2 separate regions of the Homo sapiens genome follow, and region 1 is linked to region 2. A link means that fine-mapping ties the variant in region 2 to the expression of a gene that starts in the linked region. Tissue or cell type: whole blood. Region 2 holds a variant in brackets; the other region holds the start of a gene. All regions are shown on one strand. Distances are from middle to middle. Region 1 holds the start of AGO4 (argonaute RISC component 4). Region 2 has its middle 7.5 kb from the start of C1orf216.

Region 1 (4,389 bases), 97 kb after region 2:
CATAGCCAATCAGGGAGAGAATTAGCCAGGACTTAAATGCAAGATTTGAACTCCAATTTTTCCCATGCTTCACTTCAGCATCATGTAATGCAAAGCCCGACTTACTTAACTTCCCTGAGCTTCGGTGTCATCATCTGTACAAATACCTTTCTTAACAATATCTACCTTACTGGTGGTTGTAAAGATTGAGTGACAATGAGAAGCCCATAGCAGAGTGCATGGCCAGGATGTGATGCTAATATTTTTTATCATTACATAAAAAAACTACCTGGCTCTGTGACAGCACATGGCAGGTGCTCAAATGAATATCCCACCACACATGCTAGGGGCCTAAATTATCCCCCACCCCAATAATTTGTATATTGAAGTCCTAACTCTAGCACCCCAGGATGTGACTGTAATTGGAAACAGGGTCTCTGAAGAGGTAATTAAATTAAAACGAGGTCACTAGAGTGAGCCCTACTCTAATAGGACTGCTGTCCTTATAAGAAGAGGAAATTTGGACACAGACGTGCACAGAGGGAAGACCACGTGAAGTCACTGGGAGAAGGCCACTATCTACCAAGTGAAGGAGATAGGCCTCAGAAGGAACCAACCCTGCCTACATCGTATCTCTGACTGCCAGCCTCCAGAATTGTGAGAAAATAAATTTCTGTTGTTTAAGCCACCCAGTCTGTGGTACTTTGTTACGTTATGCCGTAGCAAAGGAATACAACACACACACACAAACTCATCGTACCTTTTCAATTGGTGGACAAGGGGCTCCTTCCTTCTGCTGACTAGAAACTGCTTCTTGGCCTGTTGTCCAGTGTTCTCCCACTCAAAGTCCTTACTGAAAGCCCTAAAGATGCTGTGCCTGCTGGGCTGACCATGCTGCCTTGGAGGTGGTGCTGCTCCCTTGGCTTTTGTCTGCTAAGGGGAAGGCATCCAAGAAAGCAAGACCTTTCTCTCTCTCTCTCTCTTTTATTTTTATTTTTTTTTTTTCAGACAGTCTTGCTCTGTCGCCCAGGCTGGAGTGCAGTGGCCCGATTTCGGCTCACTGAAACCTCTGCCTCCCGGGTTCAAGCGATTCTCCTGCCTCAGCCTCCCAAGTAGCTGGGATTACAGGCGCCTGCCTCCACGCCCGGCTAATTTTTTGTGTTTTTAGTAGAGATGGGCTTCCGCCATGTTGGCCAGGATGGTCTCAAACTCCTGACCCCAGGTGATCCACCCGCCTCCGCCTCCCAAAGTGCTGGTATTACAGGCGTGAGCCACCACGCCCGGCCAAGACCTTTCTCTTCTAAAGTGACTGGTGATTTGCTGACCAGAGGCGCTTGTCATGGGACCAGGGAGGGAATGCATCATTCATCAGGGTCCATTCCCGTGGTGCCTTCCGGCTATACGGAGAGGGACGCGCAGTTGGGTGTGTGGTGCTGAATGAAGGGATGAAGGAGGACTGCTAGCGTCTAAGGTGACCCTAAAAGACGAGATGACAGAAGCGATCTGGGGTGGGAGGAGGGAGGAGGGAGGCGAGGTGGCTCCTGTGAATCTCAGTACACTTTCCACTCACAGAAGTGGAAAACTGAATCTGTGGGTCAGCGGAACTGGAATCCAGATCTTTTGCAGGACGCCCTGGGGGGATGGCACGTAGCCCCCAGAGCCGTTGGCCACCGGACGGCCTCCTCGGGTGGACGGGGCAGAGCGGGCCAGCGGGCGCGTGCCCGACACGTCCACCGGGCTCTGCACCCTCCGGGCGCGCGCTCGTTCCCCGACCCGCCTCGCCGCCTGCCGGGCTCTGTGGACCCCGCGCCCGGGGCCGCGCACGCCCCCTCCGCCCGCCGGGACCCTGGGTCCGCGCACCCCGCGCCCCCTTCCCTCCCGGCGGGCGCGCGCGCTGGCTCCCGCTCCCGCTCCCGTTGGCGGCGGCGGCGGCGGCGGCGGCGGGGATTGTTTTTGTTGTCGCTGAGGCCGGAAGAGCCGGAGCCGGGTCCCTGTCCCCGGGCCGGGCGCCGCCGCCGCCCCCTGCCCAGCGCCCGCGTCTCCGCGGCGCCACCCCAGCGCCAATATTCCGGAGATCAAGCGTTACGCGGCGGCGGCGGCGGCGGCGGCGGGGCCCGGAGCGGGAGGCGCCGGGGACCGGGGCGAGGCGGCCCCCGCCGCCGCCATGGAGGCGCTGGGACCCGGTGAGGAGCGAGCTCGGGTCGGGGCGGGACCCGGGACCCGGGACCCGGGGCGGGCGGCCGGGACTTTCGCTGCCCCGTCGCCTCGCCGGGTTCGGGCCGCCAGGCCTCGGGGAAGGGGACCCGAGCCCCGCAGCACGAAGCGGAGGGAGCTGACCCGGGCCTGGGGGGCGGTGACCGCGCCCCAGCCGGCCGTTGGGTGGATCCCGAGGTCCAGGGGGGAGGTTCGGGAAGGTGACCGGCGCTGCCGGGCGGAGGCCACTCTTGGCCCCACCTCGGGGAGACGATATGTGCCCGGGGTCGCGACGAGGGTAGTTTGGGCCTCAGAAGGGGGCGATCCGCTACCCAGTGCGCGCGGAGGCCTGGCCCAGACCGGGAAAAGGGCCCCGCTGCCTACTACCAGCCGGTAGTCCTGGTTTGGGGCCGCGCCCCTATTTTTCTTTGCACTGGCAGATGGTCCAGAGCCTTCAGATGAGGAAGAAGAACTTCATCCAAACACCTCTCATGATCTCTGAAGGTCAAGGGACAAAATGCCCACCCTTTCTGAAAGGCCCTGATGTCCCAAAGAACATGGTCCTGTGCCTCTGTCACTCAGTCTGTGTGTTAGTCTCAGAGTGGTCTGAGCCAGCCTTTGAGTGACACAGGAGTTGCCAGTCAGTCTGCTCCACCACAGGCTTCAATGCCCTGAGTTCTCTTCTAATTGGGTTATGAGTGGTTGTGAGGATCAAATGAAGGAGAAAGTGCTTTGGAAACTAATTTGTTGTGGATATGGATGGCCTCTGGTTATTTCTCTCTATCCAAACCAGAAGAACCATTCCAGGCTGTAACAAGTGTCCTGAGTATTGGGGCCTGGTGCTTCCACCTCAAAGCCCAACAGGTTTCTAATGCCTTGGCTAAGTAGCTCAGTGTTTAGGGGCTGTGGTGGAATTCACTTTAATATTCAAACTTTACCTACATAATGAACTTAGTCGTAGAGTGTTTCATCTTTTTAGTGCGTAGAAAATTCGAGTTGCCATTTGAGTTTGGAAACTTGGCACGTTTGTTTACTTAGCACTTGTTTGCATAGCTGAGTGATTAAGCCCCACCCTAATTTGCTTCTTAAAGTATTGTTTAAAGGCCCTCATAATCAAATTTCATATGCCTTTTAAAAATAAATTGGCTTGCCGCATTAATATTGTTTGATAAACTTCAGTGTATTATGCCAGGTTAACTTCAGATATGTCCCCTGGCTAAAGACATGCTCAGGTCTTTAGGAATGTAACAGATTCAATCTAGTAATGTAATAGTTGTATGACCCTGGGAAAATTACTCAATTCCTTTGAACTTTCATTTTCTCGTCTATAAATTGAGGGTAATAATAAGTATGTTCTGTAAGATTGTTGAGAGAATGAAATGAGAGTATATGATAAGTCTTATTGTAGAGACTAGTGCCTATAGATGCTCAACAGATGTTTCTTCCCTCCCCCTAGTAATTCATAATTGAAACAACTGTTGCATTTATGATCTGATATCGAAAGAAATTGTGTAACTGTGGGCATAAACTGAATTTCATGGAAAGGATCAACCTGGTGATATTAGGCACTGCCCAGGGACTCTTTTTTTTTTTTGTTTTGATTTTAGCTTTTGCAGGTTTGAGGACTTAGTGGTTCACTCAGGATTGTTCAGATTGTGGAAAATTAATTCTCACTAACCACATTTATAAGACACTAATGAATAAGCCAAAATGTCACATGGATCTTTTCTGTTGAGTGGAATATTTTCCTGTCTGCTCTCTAGCAAACTCCTTTTTTGGTGTTGCAGTACCTTGGAAACCCAACTAATAAGTAGCTGCCTGCTAAGCATAGAATCAGAGCAAAGGGAGTTGATCGTCTTGTGGGATGATTCATCCAGGCTGTTTTAGAACCTAGAGAATCATCCCTGCTTCTTTGGCAGAGCACACCTGGATCTAGTGCTTTGTGCCCTCCTCACTTGAACAGTCCCTGAAGCCTTCTAGTCTTGTTCTATCCCTCCCTGCCCACCGCCTCCCTGCAACCTAGTTCAGTTTCTGCCAATACTCAGAAATATAATTAATTAGATTTCCACTTATTTTGGTAATATGTTGTTTGCAGTACTTTATAGTTTGTAAAGTGCTTTTATGACTATTAGCTCATTTGATCCTCTGGGAGGTAGGCAGGGCAGGTAGTTATTCCATTTTACAGATGAGAAAAGTGAGGTTCAGAGAGGATGAAGT
Region 2 (4,389 bases):
TGGAGGATCCAAGACACCTGGGTCCACTCTGCACTAGAAATCACTATCCTCTGTTGCCTCCACTTCTACTGGGTCTCCAAGCTCCTCTTCCTCCAGGAAGCCTTCCTTGACCAGGCCCTTACAGATCTCGCCTCTCTCCTGTTCCTGTCACCTGTTCATGCTGAGAGTAGGAGCAAACCTACCTACACAGGGTTTCCGGTGAGGCTTGAAGGCTAAGAGGCAGGTAGACAGGTCACAGGCTGCCATCATGGGGCAGTCAGTCTCCTTAGAGATAGCCATTATACAGAGCCCTAACAAGCCAGATCCCCCACCGGGGAGCCCACCTATGATATTCTGAAGCCTTTTTCTGCAGTCTTCTAATGCTTTACCCTCTTACTCAGTTCCCAGTTCATTTTCTGCCTCCCTGCACTCAGGCTTTAACCCCATTTACTCTGACCATACTTGATGGGGCTGACCTAGTTGGTGTCCCTGGAGAGCAAGCAAGTTCTCAGTGCACCCAGCCTCACAGGCCTCTCTGCTAATCCCTTCCATGCTTTCCATCCTGTACCTGCAGCCTACTCAGGCCTCTGCTGTGTGCCCTGCCCGTGTTGGTCTCTGGGTCTCTGCTCCAATCTCATCCCTATGTCTCCTACTAAGCAAGATGACTCATGTCGCACCCAAAACCTAGGTTAGACTTCCTTGGGATTTTATTCTGGTGAGAGAGGTGAAGGGGTGGAGGTAGCTGACTGGCCAAACTCCTACCAAGTGCATGAACCTTTCCTACTCCCCTCACTGTCCCACGGACTAAGGAATTCCTACCCCAATGACTTTTTTTTTTTTTTTTTTTTTTGAGACAGTCTCACTCTGTCACCCAGGCTGGAGTGCAGCGGCACGATCTTGGCTCACTGCAACCTCCACCTCCCAGATTCAAGCAATTCTCCTGCCTCAGCCTCCCGAGTAGCTGGGATTACAGGCATGTACTATCATGCCCAGCTGATTTTTATATTTTTCATAGAGACAGGGTCTCACCATGTTGGCCAAGCTGGTCTCGAACTCCTGACCTCAAATGATCCACCCGCCACAGCCTCCCAAAATGCTGGGATTATAGGCATGAGCCACCGCACCTGGCCCAATGACTTTAAGACAACAACCACGTATAGAAGTCCCTGACTGAAAACTAGACAGACAGCCAGTCCTGCATTCCCCTCTCCTAGGTTACGAGTGGCTTGTGCATTAGGCTTTTGGGGTCTTTTTGTTGGGGAGGGGGTTGAGACAGGGTCTTGCTCTCTCACCCAGGCTTCAGTGCAGTGGTGGGATCATAGCTCACTGCAGCTTCAAATTCCTGGGCTGAAGTGATCCTCCAGCCTCAGGCTCCTGAGTGGCTAGGACCACAGGCATGTACCACCATGACTGACTAATTTTTTTTCCCTTTTTGTAGGGATGGAGTCTTAAACTCTTGGCTCAAGCCATCCTACTGCCTCAACCTCCCAAAGTGTTGGGATTACAAACATGAGCCACTGTGCCCAGCCTGCATTAGGCTTTTGGATGCAAGTCTCATCTACCTGTGCACACCACAGCTCTCAAAGACAAGAGCAGGCTCCTCAGGGCCTCATGCAGGGGAGGCACACAATCTTCTTAATCCATACAGAGCATCTTCACGTCCATTTCCTCATTCAGCCCTTATAGTTGCCACAGGTGAGGAAACTGAGTATAGAGAGTGTAGCTCAGATCTGCCTATGGGAGGTACTGTGGTCACCTTAGCACTTCCCATGATTAGGCCTCGTGGCCAGTGGACCTGATGGAGAACCACAATTCTTGGCTGAGTTGGTTCAGCCACTGGAGTCCTGCCTCCGTTTCCCTGCCCCTAACTCTGCCGTCCTGGGCTGTGGCTCTATTCTTGCCAATCTCCTTCCCAAACCCATCATCCCCCGGGGAGTCCCTGACCTTCAGTGACTGGCAGGGGTCCTGTAAACATACAATTCACCACACATTCCCTTGGTCTCACCTTCTTCTTTTTCTCAGCTCAAAGAGTTCTTTTCTGGAAAGGAATATTAGGCAGCTTTATTTTTTAGAAGTCCCCTTCCCCTTTAAAGATGACATTCAAATTTTAGATTCAGCCAGGTGCGATGGCTCACACCTGTAATCCCAGCAGGTGGGGAGGCTGAGGCGGATCACTTGAGGCCAGGAATTAGAGACCAGCCTGGCCAACATGGTAAAACCCCATCTTTACCAAACATACAAAAAAATTAGCCAGGCGTGGTGGTGCATACCTGTAATCCCAGCTACTCGGGAGGCTGAGGCATGAGAATTGCTCAAACCCAGGAGGCGGAGGTTGCAGTGAGCCAAGATCACACCACTACA[C/A]TCCAGCCTGGGCGACAGAGCCAGACCCTGTCTCAAAAAAAAAAAAAATTTTTTTAGATTCCAATTTCATAAGAAAAAATGTTTTTCTATGAAAAAGCTGTATGTACCAAAAAAGTATGATTTATAATAATCATAATTCATTAATGTAACTTACTATGTGTCAGGTACAATTCTAAGTCTTCTATATATTACATATTTAATCCTTGCAGCAACCCTGCGAAGTAGTTATTACTATTATTCCCATTTTAAGATGAGGAAACTAAAGCACAGAAAAGTTAATTGACTTGCCCAAGGTCACAAAAACATAAAACAATGGGGACAAGGTCCAAATCCAGGGTGTCTGGCTTCAGGGTCTCTGTCCTTCACCAGGGGCTGTGTTCAAAAGAGCCCTCACACATTTAGAAAAGGGGCTCCTGGCCGGGCATGGTGGCTCATGTCTGTAATCCCAGCACTTTGGGAGGCTGAGGTGGGCCGATTGCCCGAGCTCAGGAGTTTGAGACCAGCCTGGGCAACATGGCAAAAACCCATCTCTACTAAAAATACAAAAAATTAGCCAAGCGTGGTGGCATGTGCCTGTAGTCCCAGCTGCTTGGGAGGCTGAGGTAGGAGAATGGCTTGAACCCAGGAGGTGGAGGTTGCAGTGAGCCAAGATCACACCACTGCACTCCAGCCTGGGCAACAGAGTGAGACTGTCTCCAAAAAAAAAGGCTCCTTATAAAAATTCACCCTCTTATGCTCTGAAGGTTTGACAGACATCTTATTGTCAGAAATCTCCATTCAAATTTAGCCTTAGCCCTTTGCCAAAACATCTCTTAGTAAGTGGAATTTGTAAAAATTGGTTCAATACTATTTCTGTTTAAGTGTCAAGTGTGGAGATGACAAGAATTATTAACTGTTTCAGTGAGAAGTATACTTTGTGAAGTTTAAAATAAATATGTTGCCAGGCACAGTGGCTCCCAGCACTTTGGGAGGCCGAGGCGGGCAGATCACGAGGTCAGGATATTGAGACCACAGTGAAACCCTGTCTCTACTAAAAATACAAAAAATTAGCTGGGCGCGGTGGCGGGCGCCTGTAGTCCCACCTACTCGTGAGGCTTAGGCAGGAGAATGGTGTGAACCCGGAAGGCGGAGCTTGCAGTGAGCCGAGATCGCGCCACTGCACTCCAGCTTGGGCAACACAGTGAGACTCCGTCTCAAAAAAATAATAATAATAAAATAAAATAAAATAAAATAAAAATGTTGGCCAGGCGCAGTGGCTCACACCTGTAATCCCAGCACTTTGGGAGGCTCAGGTGGGAGGATGGCTTGAAGCCAGGAGTTTGAGACCAGCCTGGGCAATATAGCAAGAAGCCATCACTACAAAAAACTTAAGAATTAGCTGGGTGTGGTGGTGTGTGCCTGTAGTCCCAGCTACTCAGAGGCTAAGGTGGGAGGATCACTTGAGCCCAGAAGTTCAAGGGTACAGTGAGCTATGATTGCACCACTATGCTCTAGCTTGGGCGTATCTTGGAGACGCTGTCTCCAAAAATAAAGAATCAAATCAAATAAAAATAAAATACAGTATTTCAGATTTGTGAATTTTGGTATCCCTGGGGATCCTGGAACCAATCCCCTCAGATAACAAAGGATGACTGTATATTATAACTACATGTGTGTCAAAACCATCTAAGGACCCGAAATCATAGTCATAGTCAGAGCGCCCTTCAGGGAAGTGATGACACCAGGGTACTTGGTGTTTTATTTTTTGTTTTATTTGGTTTTTTGAGATGGAGTTTCCCTCTTGTTGCCCGGACTGGAATGCAGTGGCACGATCTCTGCCCACTGCAACCTCTGCCTCCCAGGTTCAAGCGACTCTCCTGCCTCAGCCTACTGAGTAGCTGGGATTACAGGCACCCGTCCCCACGTCTGGCTAATTTTTGTATTTTTAGTAGAGACAGGCACCATGTTGGCCAGGCTGGTCTTGAACTCCTGACCTCAGGTGATCCACCCATCTCAGCCTCCCAAAGTGCTAGGATTACAGGTGTGAGCCACCGTGCCCTGCCCAGGGTA

What was found. PIP is the estimated chance that this variant, and not a neighbour inherited with it, causes the effect. A credible set is the group of variants that fine-mapping cannot tell apart.
Region 1: it holds the start of AGO4, and the variant in region 2 is the best candidate, but not a certain one, in a credible set for the expression of AGO4 in whole blood (INTERVAL, PIP 0.52).

What each region holds. Positions count from the first base shown.
Region 1 is chr1:35,806,274-35,810,662 of GRCh38, forward strand. AGO4 (argonaute RISC component 4) reads left to right here and starts at 1,743. Exons shown (of 18, transcript NM_017629.4): 1 at 1,743-2,162. The coding sequence starts at 2,144. It overlaps CLSPN-DT (CLSPN divergent transcript), which reads left to right. Exons shown (of 3, transcript NR_199050.1): 3 at 472-667. RefSeq lists enhancers at 917-1,416, 2,516-2,795 and silencers at 1,626-1,835, 2,116-2,365.
Region 2 is chr1:35,709,171-35,713,559 of GRCh38, forward strand. No RefSeq gene overlaps it. Among named protein-coding and RNA genes, the nearest start is that of C1orf216, 7.5 kb to the right of the region's middle. The variant C/A (reference allele first, on the strand shown) is at 2,341.